Regions from separate parts of the Homo sapiens genome. Here regions 2, 3 and 4 are each linked to region 1. The links come from fine-mapping of genetic effects on gene expression. A gene starts in region 1. Each other region holds a variant in brackets. All regions are shown on one strand. Distances are from middle to middle. Region 1 holds the start of HEXB (hexosaminidase subunit beta). Region 2 overlaps HEXB (hexosaminidase subunit beta). Region 3 overlaps FAM169A (family with sequence similarity 169 member A). Region 4 overlaps HEXB (hexosaminidase subunit beta).

Evidence for each region.
Region 2: its variant is fine-mapped to the expression of HEXB in whole blood (TOPMed, PIP 0.94).
Region 3: its variant is fine-mapped to the expression of HEXB in whole blood (INTERVAL, PIP 0.94).
Region 4: its variant is fine-mapped to the expression of HEXB in whole blood (TOPMed, PIP above 0.99).

What each region holds. Positions count from the first base shown.
Region 1 is chr5:74,684,147-74,686,833 of GRCh38, reverse strand. HEXB (hexosaminidase subunit beta) reads right to left here and starts at 1,601. Exons shown (of 14, transcript NM_000521.4): 1 at 1,275-1,601. The coding sequence starts at 1,573. RefSeq lists enhancers at 624-713, 724-773, 834-883, 1,389-1,889 and a silencer at 1,574-1,913.
Region 2 is chr5:74,705,357-74,708,043 of GRCh38, reverse strand. The region is part of intron 6 of HEXB (hexosaminidase subunit beta); the gene reads right to left. Among named protein-coding and RNA genes, the nearest start is that of HEXB, 21 kb to the right of the region's middle. RefSeq lists enhancers at 874-1,374, 1,375-1,875. The variant C/T (reference allele first, on the strand shown) is at 1,475.
Region 3 is chr5:74,824,498-74,827,184 of GRCh38, reverse strand. All of the region lies in intron 5 of FAM169A (family with sequence similarity 169 member A), which reads left to right. Among named protein-coding and RNA genes, the nearest start is that of FAM169A-AS1, 40 kb to the left of the region's middle. The variant C/T (reference allele first, on the strand shown) is at 1,364.
Region 4 is chr5:74,720,231-74,722,917 of GRCh38, reverse strand. HEXB (hexosaminidase subunit beta) reads right to left here. Exons shown (of 14, transcript NM_000521.4): 12 at 2,400-2,490; 13 at 2,171-2,275; 14 at 1,630-1,800. The coding sequence ends at 1,743. GFM2 (GTP dependent ribosome recycling factor mitochondrial 2) reads left to right here. Exons shown (of 21, transcript NM_032380.5): 20 at 357-539; 21 at 1,135-1,712. The coding sequence ends at 1,263. Among named protein-coding and RNA genes, the nearest start is that of HEXB, 36 kb to the right of the region's middle. The variant G/A (reference allele first, on the strand shown) is at 1,431.

The DNA of each region.
Region 1 (2,687 bases):
CATGATCTTCTGAGACAACCTTCATGTACTTTCCATGCAATCTTTCTGAATATCCCAATGCAACCAAACACTTTGGTTCTACATCTTAACCCCACTCTGGCCTTAGCAGATTGGATACCAAAGGCTCATTAGTGTGTGTGTCTAAAATAGAGACTGATAATACCCATTTAGTTGTACAAAACAGAAGGAAACCATGAGCCTTCTGATTGTAGAGAATGAACCATTTCTGCCATCAGCATCTTGGGCCTCTGCAGCTTGAGCCTAGGCACCTGTCCTATCTGGGGTCAGAACACATTATTCAGTTAGTTTGACATTCCCTCCCCACCTGTTCAGGGTCCTGCAAGCACACTTAAGCTCTATAGTATCCACTGGGTACAGCGACAGGCTTGGGGAATGCCAGGAGGCAGTACAGTTAGCACCAAATTACAATTCTGCAGGGCACGATACGCCTTCAGGACAGTCCCACCTACACAGGTCTCACACTGAGGGGACAGTGTGTGGCGTCTTCAAACATCTCCCCAGGGGAACCTGCCTTGTCTATGGTGTGATTGGCTGACTCCCATGACAAAACTCACCCTGTCTGCAGCCAAAGGGTGAGAGAGACAGAGGCGCTATCTAGGGGTCTGTAAAAGAGGAAGCAGGGAGAGCAGGCAACATGATCGGTGTTGAGAAACAAAGTTGGATACTGCCTAACCACTGACCGCAGAAACGTAGTCAGATGCAAACATGTCACATTTTATATGGAAGAGATTTTAGGAGAGAGGGCAGTTTTAGGCAGTGCTCGAAACTGAGGACTTCTGCCATTTGAGCTGTTACCAGGAGATGTGAGGAGAGGTGAGGGGGCGAAACTGGCCTATAAATGACAGTCAGCTTTGGGGGATTCCTGGTCCCTCAAGAGAGCTTGTCTAAGCCCTTCGGGTAACTTATCCCTTTGCACGTCCTTCAAATAAGGAGCTGTCACTTTCCTCCCCAGCTCCGGTGTCCCCTCCGTCCATGCCATTTGCCCAACAAGGCCTCAGAGCAAACTCCCTCTTCCACTTACTATCCGGCTCTCAAACCAGGGTTCCTGAGCACCCAAGGTGTCCCTTAAGAAGCAGTAGGAGGGTGGGGGCAAGAGCGTGGGTTCAGTCCATGTGGCGCTGGGCAGATCGCCTGCCAGCTCCCAGGCGGTTTCTCGTCTGCGCAGTGGGGTGGTGAGGGTCTGCACAGCGCTCCGGGGTGGTCCGCCTCTCCCCTCCCCCAGGACAACTCCCGGCCGGGCCGGGAGCGCTCACCGTCGAAACGCTTCCTCCAGCAGGGTGCAGGAGGGGCCCGCCGTGGAATTGGGGCTGTGGCTGATGTAGAAGTTCTCCGGGGCGAGATGCAGCAGGTTCGGGGTCATCTTCACCAAGAGCGGCAGGGGCCACAGCGCCGGCCCCGGCTTGGCCGAGACGCTCGGGGCCCGAGCCGCCTCCGCCACCTGCACCACCAGCGCCACCTGAGTCAGCAGCGCCAACATCGCCGCCAGCAGTGTCGCCAACAGCAGCGCCAGCAGCATGGGCGGCCGGGGCAGCCCCAGCCCGCACAGCTCCATGGCCGCTCGGCTGCTTTCCGCCCGGTCTGCCGAGCCGGAGCCTCGGGACCCGACTTCCCGCCCGGCCCGGATCAGAGGAAGCGCGGCCGCGGGTGAGTCACCGAGTCAGATGACTGCGCGCGCCCGCCCCCGACTCCGCCTCCAGGCCCCGGGAGCGTCCTCGCCCAGCCCGCCCTGTCCAGGTCACCTCGAGAATTTCCTCCAGGGGTGCCCTCGGGTAGGAGCAGAGCCCAGACAGCAACCTCAAACACGGGATGGCTAAAGTAAGAAAAATGCCCGGTGCTGGCCGTACGTGGTGGCTCACGCCTGTAGCCCCAGCACTTTGGGAGGCCGAGGCGGGCGGATCACCTGAGGTCAGGAGTTCAAGACCAGCCTGGCCAAATTGGTGAAACCCCGACTCTACAAAAATACAAAAATTAGCCGAGCATGATGGCGGGTGCCTGTAGTCCCAGCTACTCGGGAGGCTGAGGCAGGAGAATCTCTTGAACCCGGGAGGCGGAGGTTGCAGTGAGCCGAGATCGCACCACTGCACTCCAGCCTGGGTAACAGAGCAAGACTCCGTCTCAAAAAAAAAAAAAAAAAAAAAGAAAAGAAAAAGAAAACGGCCCAGTGCACAGGCTCGGGACGCCAGGCCGACACCGGGTCGCCGCTCACGCTGTCAACACGGGCGCTCTCCTGTGGATCCCTGGCTTCGGTGAAGCTGGAGAAGCCAAGCTTGAGGAGCACCTTTCTCCTCTCAGCCCAACCACCAGATAACCGAGATGAGAGCTGAGTTTATTTGCTCCTAAGTCTAGGCTTTTCTGTAACAGCACTTCAGCTGTGGTCAATAAAGCCTTCCTATCAGAACTCCCTGGGGCAGAGCATGCCCAAGGAATCCTGAGAGAGAACATCTTGGCTCATCTGTGTGGGTCCCGATATAAAGGATCCCAACTGACAAGTTTGATTTCATAACCCATCCCTAAGGAAGAGCCAGTGAAGTCACATGACGAACACGGACTGGAGATGCCAAAGGGAGAAGAGGTGTTCTCTTACCAGAAGGAGAAAACGCTAGGCAGACCAAAACCACAGATCTGCTATATAAGTATTCTGAAAATGAGGGTGGAAGAGCTTTAAG
Region 2 (2,687 bases), 21 kb before region 1:
TTTCTCTCTGGCTGCCCTTAACATTTTTTCCTTCATTTCAACTTTGGTGAATCTGACAATTATGTGTCTTGGAGTTGCTCTTCTCGAGGAGTATGTTTGTGGCATTCTCTGTATTTCCTGCATCTGAATGTTGGCCTGCCTTGCTAGATTGGGGAAATTCTCCTGGATAATATCCTGCAGAGTAGGACTTGGTTCCATTCTCCCCGTCACTTTCACTTTCAGGTACACCAATCAGATGTAGATTTGGTCTTTTCACATAGTCCCATATTTCTTGGAGGCTTTGTTCATTTCTTTTTATTCTTTTTTCTCTAAACTTCCCTTCTCACTTCATTTCATTCATTTCATCTTCCATCACTGATACCCTTTCTTCCAGTTGATCACATCAGCTCCTGAGGCTTCTGCATTCTTCACGTAGTTCTCGAGCCTTGGCTTTCAGCTCCATCAGCTCCTTTAAGCCCTTCTCTGTATTGGTTATTCTAGTTGTACATTCGTCTAAATTTTTTTCAAAGTTTTTAACTTCTTTGCCTTTGGTTTGAATTTCCTCCTGTAGCTCGTAGTTTGATCTTCTGAAGCCTTCTTCTCTCAACTCATCAAAGTCATTCTCCGTCCAGCTTTGTTCCATTGCTGGTGAGGAACTGCGATCCTTTGGAAGAAGAGAGGTGCTCTGCTTTTTAGAGTTTCCAGTTTTTCTGCTCTGTTTTTTCCCCATCTTTGTGGTTTTATCTACTTTTGGTCTTTGATGATGGTGATGTACAGATGGGTTTTTGGTGTGGATGTCCTTTCTGTTTGTTAGTTTTCCTTCTAACAGACAGGACCCTCAGCTGCAGGTCTGTTGGAGTTTGCTAGAGGTCCACTCCAGACCCTGTTTGCCTGGGTATCAGCAGCGGTGTCTGCAGAACAGTGGTTTTTCGTGAACCGTGAATGCTGCTGTCTGATCGTTCCTCTGGAAGTTTTGTCTCAGAGGAATACCCGGCTGTGTGAGGTGTCAGTCTGCCCCTACTGGGGGGTGCCTCCCAGTTAGGCTGCTCAGGGATCAGGGACCCACTTGAGGAGGCAGTCTGCCCGTTCTCAGATCTCCAGCTGTGTGCTGGGAGAACCACTGCTCTCTTCAAAGCTGTCAGACGGGGACATTTAAGTCTGCAGAGGTTACTGCTGTCTTTTTGTTTGTCTGTGCCCTGCCCCCAGAGGTGGAGCCTACAGAGGCAGGCAGGCCTCCTTGAGCTGTGGTGGGCTCCACCCAGGTGGAGCTTCCCGGCTGCTCTGTTTACCTAAGCAAGCCTGGGCAATGGCGGGCACCCCTCCCCCAGCCTCGCTGCCGCCTTGCAGTTTGATCTCAGACTTCTGTGCTAGCAATCAGCGAGACTCCGTGCACGTAGGACCCTCCGAGCCAGGTGCAGGATATAATATCCTGGTGTGCCGTTTCCTAAGCCCGTCGGAAAAGCACAGTATTCGGGTGGGAGTGACCCGATTTTCC[C/T]GGTGCCGTGTGTCACCCCTTTCTTTGACTAGGAAAGGGAACTCCCTGACCCCTTGCGCTTCCCGAGTGAGGCAACGCCTCACCCTGCTTCGGCTCGCGCATGATGCGCTGCACCCACTGTCCTGCGCCCACTGTCTGGCACTCCCTAGTGAGATGAACCTGGTACCTCAGATGGAAATGCAGAAATCACCCGTCTTCTGTGTCGCTCATGCTGGGAGCTGTAGACGGGAGCTGTTCCTATTCGGCCATCTTGGCTCCTCCCCCCGAAATGTGAATATTGATTAGCTGTCTAGATTACTCTTAATTTTTTAGCTGCAATCATGTATTATGGTTATTTTTTCTTAAAGAACAGGCCTTTTTACAGTGAGATACAATGATGGATTTTATTCAAAACAACAGGATGGGGCAGGGCTTGTCCGCAGGAGTTTAAGTGATACAAGGTTGACCATGTATTCATGTTTGAACTGGCATGATGAGAACATGGGAGTTCATTAAACTATTCTGTATCTGTATATGTTTGAAATTTGCCATAATAAAAAGTAAAACAAAAGGAAACAAAAACACAAGTGCTGTTAGCACATTTTAGCCTACATACCTAACATTGGAGAAAGTTTTGGAATTATGGCCGGAGGACAGAATTTAGAGTCCTGGCTCTGTCCCTTCCTAACCACAACTTTACACAAGGCACATCATTTCTCTGGATGTCAGGTACCTTCTTTGTATTACAGGGGTATTAAACTAGGGGACACTGAGGGTCCCTCCCAGATCCATTGGTCCATGATACAGTCAATTTGAACACTGTTAACTGAGACTACCATTATTTTCTAAGAAAACACTCTCACCTCTAAAATTCCCTACTTCATGTAGTTTCTCAGAGAGAAAAATAGTCATTTATGGATTTCCAAACAATTATGTTTAAAACAAATACACTGTTGGACAACTTGATAAATATATTATCTTAACCATATGTAATTTGAGAATTATTCAGGGCTTCTACCTTGTTAAATTTCGATTTACACTTCCCCAAGATTGTTTATATTCACAGTAACAATTACAGTAACCGTTATAACAATAACAAAAAAAGTTTTATGGATGTAAAATGCTAAGTCACAGCCAAAAAAATTAAAAACCATAAACATCTGATTTTTACACTTTGATTCTATCCATAAGAACAAACATTTAAGCTACAAACTTGTAATGAAACTATACCCAA
Region 3 (2,687 bases), 140 kb before region 1:
CACAGAGAAACCTGGCAGGTACCATGTTAACCAACAGATTATGGTTAACATCACTAGTAATAAGACATATCAACATCATGTATCCCATGATATATGATGTACTGAGAAGGGCACAGTATCATTCTGTAGCATTTTTGCCCAAAATTTATGATCTCAGTTCATTCATGAGAAACCATTAGACAAAGCCAAATTAGGAGAGTTATTCTATAAAGTAACTGACAATCAGCCATAGTGTCAAGGTTATGAGTGACAAGGGGAGATGGAGGAATTATCGAAGACCAGAGTTTAGGGATATATTAAACTAAATGCAGGAAGGAATTCTGGATTGGATTCTGAAACAGAAAAGAACATTAGTGGAATAATGTGTGAAATTTGAATAAAGTCTGTAGTTTAGCTAACAGTATTATAGCAATGTTAATTTCCTGGTTTTGATAATAGTATTTTGGCTATATAGGATGTTAACATTAGGGTGAAGGGTATATGGGAGCTCTTTGTAATGTTTTTGTGACTTTTCTATAAGTCTACAATTGTTTTTAAAATAGTTTTTTAAAAGTCAACAATATGTCAGAAATAACATCTTCTGTAATTATTGATTGAAACTTAGATGAAAATTTTTAGATATCACAAGGATGTGTGAATATATGGTATTTCAAAATTATTTTATGGCTACATGAGCAAAAACGTCTCCTTTGAGGAGTTTGACTAGGCCAAAAGAAAAAAGAAACTAAAAATACCAATATAAATGGTTCCCCTAGGAAAGGCTCCAGCCATATCATCCTGCTGTGAGGTCCATTGCCAGCAAGCCCCACCATACACACAGAGCTTCTAATTAGCTTTTTAATATCTCATTCTTAATTATGAACAGATAGTCATAGGTAAGGAAGGCCACTGATGTGAAAAATGGTGATTAAAGCAAAAGAGAGTAAAAGAGATTTGGAGGAGAAGACAATGCAAAAAATGTGGCCCTTAAAATTTTTGGAAAAGTTAGTCATTGCATTTATGAAATAAGAACAAGAATGTTCACAGAGCTCTTAGAAACTAAAACAAATCCAATAGAGTTGGAGGAGGTTGATCAGAAAGGAGTGCAGAAACAACAAAAAACAAACCTAAATGATGGTAAATAGGAAGAGATGATAAAATTAGAGGGATTATTTAAATAATACATGTTTCAGGAGGAGAGAACAAATTGGAGGAGAAAAAATCACCAATAAAATAATTCACTAACATTTCTCAGAACTGTAGAACACACATTTCCAGATTAAAAGGGCCCATTGAGCATCCATCACAATGAATTAAGATACACTCATACCAAGATTATTGTGAAATTTCAGAGCATCTGGAATAGAGAAAAGATTTTGAAAGC[C/T]TCCATAAAGTGAGAGAATGATTTAGACAAAAGATCAAGAATCAAAACGTTACTAGAGTTCTCAACAGCAACATGAATACTAGAAGTGGAATAATGCCTTTAAGATACCAAGGGTAAAGTGATTTCCAGTGTGTTCTGTGCCCCGTCAAATTAATAAAGAGTGAGAGTGAAAGAAGGAAATTTCTAGACTGTCAGTCTTAAAACAATTTACCTTTTATATACCCCTTTTCTGGAAGTGAGTAGAGTTTGTGCTCTCCTAAGATAAAGAAAATCAAGAAGGAAAGATGGGATTAGGAAACTAAGAGAGAAAAGAAAGGAGATCCAACATCACAGCTATGTCAGTTGTGGAGCTGCTCTTTGTTAAAACCACTAGCTTTATGTGGCTGTTGAAGTTAAATTTTAAAATTCAGTTTCTCAGTCATGCTGGCCACATTTTAAGAGCTCAATGGCCACATGTGACTAGTGGCTACTGCATTGGACAGAGTAGATACAGAACTTTTCCATCATTGCAGAATGATCTTTTGGACATTTCTTTTTCTAAAGATTGACTGATCTAGATTGGAGCAGATCACAAAGCTCTGGGACGTTGATTTAAGAAGATAGAGTTCATAGAATACCTGATGTATTTGAATTTATTGGGATAAGATTTACATAGTTACTGGAGACTTTGGAGGATGAGAGAGATAGTAATAAATATTATTAAGGGAAATCAAAAAGTGTAAGAATAAAGATAAAAATAAACATTCATGGTACACTATATGGCTCAGTTGTCAAAAGCATTTATATAGTCATAATGTAAATACTGAAAATTGATCTAACAAATCACAAATTACTATTTAGGGGTGTTGGGGTTTTTTGTATGGGAAGTGTGTTTATGTTGGAGTTGAGATTGGGGTGTGTGAATGTATTTAAGAGCTAAATTCTCACCTTCCAAGTTCTAGCTATCTATGCCTAAAATGGAAAAATGAAGAAATAGAAATCAAGAGGTATAGTAAGTTACTTAGAGAAGTAGAAGTAAATACCGAAAATATCAGCTAAATGACTTCAAAATGGTTGCTTTTGGGGTGTAGAAAGTGTGTTTGTGTGTGTGTATGTGTGTGTGTGTGTGTGTGTATGTGTGTGTATCAGGAAAGTGGTCACAGAGCTGCTTTTTTTTTTTCTTAAGTCTTATATGACTATTGTATTCTAAACAATGTTATGGATGACTTTGATTAAAAACAAGAAGTATACATTTAAAAAAATGAGGCCATGTCCAAAGTGTAATCACTATCTACCACAAAACTAGCTGAACTTTATAAATCCTTCTCAGCCTGGAATGATAAGG
Region 4 (2,687 bases), 36 kb before region 1:
GCTGTCTCTGGCATGTGGCATGGCATGGACTGTAATTATAGACATCAGGAACAGAAACATGAGGTTTAAATATGAACAAATGAATCTTTGAAAGGGGAGGACTTTCTGTGACTCTGACCACATGTTCACAGGCATTTTTTATAAACATCCCCTTGCATCATACCATACAAAAGATCTATAAATTCTGTTATCATGCTTATTATACAAGCAAATATTATAGTTGTTGCCATCTTATAAAACGTTATCTTTAAAGAGAGAGTTAAAGCAAGCTTATGTCTTTTTGTATGAGCTCTAGGCTGTATTTATTTTAAGTTTTTATTTATGAAAGATAAGTTAACATTCTTTAATTTCTTTAGGCTCTGAAGAAAGCTGATAAGCAAGTTTTGGAGCCTCTGATGAATCTTGAGGTTACAGTAGCTAGAGATTATCTCAGCCCTGTCCTGGCAGATCTGGCACAAAGAAGAGGAAACATTCAGGAAATTCAGACTCGCCAGGACAACAAAGTTGTTATTGGATTTGTTCCCTTAGCAGAAATTATGGTAGGTACTTTGTAACTGAAAAGTACATATTCTTCTTAATTCAGGGGATATTATATGCCAATGAATAGACAATCAGTAACCTGAAAGAAACATTAAGGCTTTGATTTAGAGAATACATGTTAAGTTTCGTTTCAACCAGCAGGAATGGTTAGGACTTTGAATTTAAATTGTTGGCGAAATCCAGGGATTATAGCACTACAAGGGGGTATTTACAGTCCCAAAATGTGGTACCAGCCTATATGACCATTTTTTCCCTGCCAAGCATTTATCTTACTTCCACCATTGTCAGTTTTAAGGCAAGTTATCATTCTTCTCCCGTCAGCCTCTTCTGCTCCAGGACAGGCACCTGGGTTGCCGGCAAAGCCATCTAACAAATACATCTGCAGCACACTTGCACTACTCTGCTTTCTGTCCTCAATGTTTTTATATCCAACTTACCCTGAAAAAAGTTAAATCATCTGTTTGGAGGAAGTGATATGGCTAAGCCACAAAAGTGGCAACATCACTTTTCCCTAATAGTCAAAAGATAATCAGCAGGAAGAGAAACTTGAGGCTTAAATTTGATAATATAAATGACTTAAATTATTTTGATTAGGGTTATTCAACTGTGCTTCGAACGCTAACATCAGGCTCAGCTACTTTTGCCTTAGAACTATCTACTTATCAAGCCATGAATCCTCAAGATCAAAATACACTGCTCAACCGGAGAAGTGGTTTGACCTAAATGTTTTAGTTTTTGGAGAGAAATTCAGGAGCACCTAGCTACTTCATTTTCAGTAAGAACAATTTTTATTGCTTTATTTATTGGACGAATAAAGTACTGTTTCAGTACATTCAGAGAACTAGATAAAAGATATAACTTAAGCTTTGATAGTGGCACTGGAGCCACCC[G/A]TTTTAATTTATATAATGAGAAATGTGCTTTGATGTTTAAAGCCACTGTACCTGAATCATGCTGTTCATCTATGAAGTTATTACTATAAGTAGCCTTCAGAAGAGTGGTATCACAAAGTTGTGTTTCTTTTGTGTCCTTAAGCTTGTCTCACAAGAAAGATGCCAGGCCTCTAAATGTAATAAGATAGAGGGTCAAAGGTTCAATCAATAAAAATATTTTATTCAAAAAACAGTCTAATATCTTATTTTACATGATTTCAAAATAAAGTTGATTGTAGTACAGATTGCTGTGGCCTTTTTCCCCTCCATTTTTTACATGTTCTCATGGTTACAATATCCAGCATAAAGAGGTTGTGCAGCTATTCCACGTCTGTAGATAACATGAATAAAGATATTTTAGATTGATTTAGATTGATATCATTCATAAAGATATTTTAGATTGATATTCATGTCATCTTAGAAACTTAAATTAGAATCACTAAATCACAGCATTACTGAAAATAAGGGAAGAAAATTAAAGCAACTCAAGATGGAGTTCTAAGTTACACCAACATTTTTTGTATCTATAAAACAGTCACAAGTCTGAATATATCTTTACAGGTATTATTACTTACAAAAAAATAATTCCTGGTTTCTTCTAATTACTATTTGTTAGGTAACATACATTTCTATTTATAGCAAAAGAAACTAACACTGAATAAGAAGGTTAAAAATCACACTGGACTTAATAGATTTCTTACTCGACCATCCTGCAGCGGTGCCTTGTCAGTCTGTCATAGGCGTCATCCATATCTCTGACATCTTTGGAACTCCAGAGTCTCTCACCAACAGCACTTGCCCGAGGCCTAAAATTTAAATCACACATCCCCCCGCAAGCAGTTTAAATTTATGTTTAGCACTTTTGTGTTTAGACAGAGAAGGAAAGCTAAGGCACCTTAATTCTTAAATGTTATCAGGTAAATCCCATACCATAATCTTGGAGTGAGGTTAGTTGCATCCACATATTCTCCCCATAGACAAGCTTCTCCACCAATGAAAAGTTGTTTCTGTTTCTGAGTACCTAAATTAAAATCATTGAATTAAGTTCAGAAGTTCAAAGCTTATACACAGAGGCAATATTTCATCAAGATTTGTTTCCTCCATCTTTATCCTAGGGCAACATTTCTTGCCCGTGGTTAGCAGGACCTTGGGAGATGCTAATGGTTGTGGCACAAAAAAGATGGCCCCTCCTCTTCCCCCACCCCCCAAAAAAATGGT